Regions from separate parts of the Homo sapiens genome. Here region 1 is linked to region 2. The links come from fine-mapping of genetic effects on gene expression. Tissue or cell type: nasal epithelium. Region 2 holds a variant in brackets; the other region holds the start of a gene. All regions are shown on one strand. Distances are from middle to middle.

Region 1 (2,682 bases), 27 kb before region 2:
GAAATTCAAAGGTCACTGGTGTTCCTAATGAGATCCACGGTTGTGGAGTGGCAGAGAGAAGCCACCTGTGGCACAGGAGTCGTCAGTAGGAGTCGCAGGAGGAATTGATGCAGCATGGTGGGAGTGGACGTCACTTTCAAGGTGATCAGCCGTGAAGAGCGGCAAACACAGCGTCTTGGCTCGAGTTCCCCCAAACGGTGCCCCCTGGAACAAGAATTTGAGCACGAGTACAGTAGTTTTTTTGGGAGGTGATCCCAGGAAACATCGGTAGTCAGGGAAAGGAAGGAAGCCAACAGAAGATGCCCTGATGAGCAAGTTGCAGCTGTGGACAACCGCAGCCGTGGCCTACAGAGGACCACCGCAATACGCCTAGGACACACGCCTCCCCGCAGGGCACGTGCGGAGGGCGAGAGGGCCAGGGCATTCTCGACCAACTCTATCCCTCGTGGAGGGAGAGCAGCTGGGAAGGAGTGCAAGCACCCAGCACCTCTAAGTCTGCCCCATTTCTGCTCTGAGCGGGCTCTCCACAGCCAGCGGTTGCCTGCAGGTGGAGCCGGTGCGCAAGACAGGCGAGTGAGCGCCTGGCGGCCCCGTGGAATCTGGGCAACGATGGGAAGGAGAAGGGCGCTTTTACAATGTGCTCGGGTAGATACCGTGAGCATCGGGGGACAGGAAGGGGAGAGGCCCCAGGGTGTTCTTTATCTACAGGAGAGTAAAAGATGCAAGGCGCAGGGCTGATGTGGGTAATTTATGAGGGACTGTAGGAAGTTTGGGGGAGCTCTGATGATCATTGCCTTCTCTTTGTATCTCAAATGCAGCAGCACAGTCTTCAGAGTGGGCTATCAGAACCGAAGGGACTTTTAAGAGCCACTCTCCGCCGCTCATAAGGGGAAATCGAGGTCCGGAGAAGGGAAAGCAAGTGGCTGAATGCCGGTAAAAGGCAGGAAAAGAGCGGAGCCCAGGGCTCCAGGGGGTCGGTTTGGGACCTGCTTCCACCAGCAGAGTCTAAGGTCATCCCCTTGGCCGTGCGCCACCCTGGGCTCAGCCGAAGGAAGGAGCACTCGACACAAACAAAACCGACGCTCCGGGTCTCCGTAGTCGTTAAGCAAAGAGGAAGAGGAAGCGCTTCTTCATTAGGCCACAGGACCGGGCCTTAGAACTTTTGGGTTTTATCCATTAAAGGTCCTTTGGCAATAGAAGAAAAACCCAGATCGAGCCCTGCAAACTGGGATCTTCCGCCGGCACCGCCCCCCGGCTGCGACCCGGGGCTCGGAAAGAACCACCCCAGGCCCGGGCTCCGGTTCCACCGCACAGTCCGCCCGCTGCGGTAAAGCCGCGCCCACCGCCGCGGGTCTCCAACCCTGCGCCGCCGCCGCCCCCGGGGGAGGGTACGGAAAGGGCGCGGCGCCGCCGCCCACGGGCTCCTCCAGAGCGCGGCGGGGCCGGGCCGCGCGGAATCACGGGACAGAGGCGGGGCCGCGCCGGCGGGGGCGGGCGTGCGAGCGGCGCTTTCCTCTCCGGCACCCGGCGGGCGCCCGGGCGCGGCGCCGCCGGCACCCGAGAGGCGCGGTAGCCGGCGCGGGCGGCGGGGGCCGGGCCGCGGCGGGCGCCCGGGCGGGGTCCGCGCTGAGCCGCCTTCTCGGCCGCCTGGTCCCTGCGGCGGCTGCCCGGCGGCCCGGGCGCGCGGCGCTTCGCCATGTACACCTTCGTGGTACGCGATGAGAACAGCAGCGTCTACGCCGAGGTCTCCCGGCTGCTCCTCGCCACCGGCCACTGGAAGAGGCTGCGGCGAGACAACCCCAGATTCAACCTGATGCTGGGAGAGAGGAATCGGCTGCCCTTCGGGAGACTGGGTGAGCCCCTCCCCGATTCCCGTCTGCCCTCCTCGGAGCGGCCCTGCGCGCCTCCCGCGGCCCGTTAGAACCGGCGCTTTTGTTTTTAAAGGTCATACATTTTCTCCTCTGTCGCTTGTCGGGCACATCAGAAACGGATTCGGAAAGATCGAAACCTGTCGTTTTTAATGCTTTCTTGTCTCCTAACTTGGATTTAGAGTCGGAGTCGCGGTGCGGCCACTCGGGGCCGCAGCTACCTCCCGACGGTGACCGGTCCCTGCAGCCCGGGAGACGCTGGCCGCCGGGGCTGGGACCTGAGGCGCGAGTCTAGCGGCTCCCCCGGGCCGAAGCCCCCAGATTTGGCGGGTCCGCCGCGCTGGGCGCGGCTCCGCAGAGCGGGCGGCTGGAGTCATCTTTTGCAGCTCGTCTGCACTGAGGATTTCTCCCTGCTTGGCGTGGGCGCGGGCGGGGGAGCCGTAGGTGTTGAAACCCCTGAGGCTTCTGCCCCCCGAAGGCGCGGAGGAGCGATCAGAGGATTTGGAAAAGACCCCCGGATTCCAAAAGCAGGAGCTGCAGAAGAGACCCTAGCCCAGGGAAGTGTGGAGGGATGTCTGATTATAAACCTTTCCTTAGTTTCACCAAATAATGTGTTTTCGCAGTTCTGCATTGGATTAAGATCTTACACGAGGCTGCGTTCGCCCTCCCTGTCTTCCCTGCTCTCCCCGAGGGAATTACCTTCATCCACATGGTTGAAGCTGGCTGGGCACCACCATACCCACATGTCCACGGGTAGGAAAGCGCAGGAGATAGGAGGGGACTAGCGGCTCCTTTGTAAGTGATGTCATCCAGA
Region 2 (2,682 bases):
ATTTTATTTCTCCTTCACTTATGAAGCTTAGTTTGGCTGGATATGAAATTCTGGGTTGAAAATTCTTTTCTTTAAGAATGTTGAATATTGGCCCCCACTCTCTTCTGGCTTGTAGGGTTTCTGCCGAGAGATCCGCTGTTAGTCTGATGGGCTTTCCTTTGAGGGTAACCTGACCTTTCTCTCTGGCTGCCCTTAACATTTTTTCCTTCATTTCAACTTTGGTGAATCTGACAATTATGTGTCTTGGAGTTGCTCTTCTCGAGGAGTATCTTTGTGGCGTTCTCTGTATTTCCTGAATCTGAACGTTGGCCTGCCTTGCTAGATTGGGGAAGTTCTCCTGGATAATATCCTGCAGAGTGTTTTCCAACTTGGTTCCATTCTCCACATCACTTTCAGGTACACCAATCAGACGTAGATTTGGTCTTTTCACATAGTCCCATATTTCTTGGAGGCTTTGCTCATTTCTTTTTATTCTTTTTTCTCTAAACTTCCCTTCTCGCTTCATTTCATTCATTTCATCTTCCATTGCTGATACCCTTTCTTCCAGTTGATCGCATCGGCTCCTGAGGCTTCTGCATTCTTCACGTAGTTCTCGAGCCTTGGTTTTCAGCTCCATCAGCTCCTTTAAGCACTTCTCTGTATTGGTTATTCTAGTTATACATTCTTCTAAATTTTTTTCAAAGTTTTGAACTTCTTTGCCTTTGGTTTGAATGTCCTCCCGTAGCTCAGAGTAATTTGATCGTCTGAAGCCTTCTTCTCTCAGCTCGTCAAAATCATTCTCCATCCAGCTTTGTTCTGTTGCTGGTGAGGAACTGCGTTCCTTTGGAGGAGGAGAGGCGCTCTGCGTTTTAGAGTTTCCAGTTTTTCTGTTCTGTTTTTTCCCCATCTTTGTGGTTTTATCTACTTTTGGTCTTTGATGATGGTGATGTACAGATGGGTTTTCGGTGTAGATGTCCTTTCTGGTTGTTAGTTTTCCTTCTAACAGACAGGACCCTCAGCTGCAGGTCTGTTGGAATACCCTGCTGTGTGAGGTGTCAGTGTGCCCCTGCTTGGGGGTGCCTCCCAGTTAGGCTGCTCGGGGGTCAGGGGTCAGGGACTCACTTGAGGAGGCAGTCTGCCCGTTCTCAGATCTCCAGCTGCGTGCTGGGAGAACCACTGCTCTCTTCAAAGCTGTCAGACAGGGACACTTAAGTCTGCAGAGGTTACTGCTGTCTTTTTGTTTGTCTGTGCCCTGCCCCCAGAGGTGGAGCCTACAGAGGCAGGCAGGCCTCCTTGAGCTGTGGTGGGCTCCACCCAGTTCGAGCTTCCTGGCTGCTTTGTTTACCTAATCAAG[C/G]CTGGGCAATGGCCGGCGCCCCTCCCCCAGCCTCGTTGCTGCCTTGTAGTTTGATCTCAGACTGCTGTGCTAGCAATCAGCGAGACTCCGTGGGCGTAGGACCCTCTGAGCCAGGTGTGGGATATAATCTCATGGTGCGCCGTTTCTTAAGCCGGTCTGAAAAGCGCAATATTCGGGTGGGAGTGACCCGATTTTCCAGGTGCGTCTGTCACCCCTTTCTTTGACTCGGAAAGGGAACTCCCTGACCCCTTGCGCTTCCCAGGTGAGGCAATGCCTCGCCCTGCTTCGGCTCGCGCACGGTGCGCACACACACTGGCCTGCGCCCACTGTCTGGCACTCCCTAGTGAGATGAACCCGGTAAGGTACCTCAGATGGAAATGCAGAAATCACCCGTCTTCTGCGTCGCTCACGCTGGGAGCTGTAGACCGGAGCTGTTCCTATTCGGCCATCTTGGCTCCTCCTCCTGGTCTTGAACTCTTGACTTCAGGTGATCTACCCCCCTCGGCCTCCCAAAGTGCTGGGATTACAGGCGTAAGCCACCATGCCTGGCTAATTTATATTTTCCCTCTATTTTGCTTGGACAGATTGACTAAACATTTATCAATTTTATCAGTCTTTTCAAAAAATTAGCTTTTGGTTTTATTGGTTTTCTCTGTTGTTTTTCTTTTCAGCTTCTTTGATTTATGCACTTTATCATTCTCTTCCTTTTGCTTTTTGGAGGATATAATTTACTCTTTTTCTAGTTGTGCTTTTTGTTTGTTTTTTAAGAGATGGTGTCTCATTTTATTGCCTAGGCTGGAGTACAAGTGTGATCATAGCTCACTGCTGCTTCAAACTTTTAGGCTCAAGGGATCTTCCTGTCTCAGCCTCCCAAGTAGCTGGGACTACAGGTATACACCACTGTGCCTGGCTAATTTTTTTATTTTTTGTAGAATTGGGTCTCACTGTCTTGCCCAGGCTGGTTTCAAGCTCCTGGGCTCAAGCAGCCCTCCCATCTTGATCTCCCAGAGTGCTGGGATTATAGGTGTGAGCCACCATGCCCAGCCTATTCCAGTTTTTAAGGTGAAAGTTTAAATAATTGATTTGAGATATTTCTTTTTTTTTTTGAGATAGAATTTTGTTCTTATTGCCCAGGCTGGAGTGCAATGGCACGATCTCGGCTCACTGCAACCTCCATCTCCTGGGTTCAAGCGATTCTCCTGCCTCAGCCTCCCGTGTAGCTGGGATTACAGGCATGTGCCACCATGCCTGGCTAATTTTGTATTTTTAGGAGACACGGGGTTTCTCCATGTTGGTCAGGATGGTTGAGATATTTCTTTTTTAAAAAAATAAAAGCATGTCTCAGTTTC

What was found. PIP is the estimated chance that this variant, and not a neighbour inherited with it, causes the effect.
Region 1: it holds the start of TTL, and the variant in region 2 is fine-mapped to the expression of TTL in nasal epithelium (TOPMed, PIP 0.97).

What each region holds. Positions count from the first base shown.
Region 1 is chr2:112,480,649-112,483,330 of GRCh38, forward strand. TTL (tubulin tyrosine ligase) reads left to right here and starts at 1,508. Exons shown (of 7, transcript NM_153712.5): 1 at 1,508-1,853. The coding sequence starts at 1,697. RefSeq lists an enhancer at 839-908 and silencers at 1,229-1,618, 2,179-2,278.
Region 2 is chr2:112,508,050-112,510,731 of GRCh38, forward strand. All of the region lies in intron 5 of TTL (tubulin tyrosine ligase), which reads left to right. Among named protein-coding and RNA genes, the nearest start is that of TTL, 27 kb to the left of the region's middle. The variant C/G (reference allele first, on the strand shown) is at 1,334.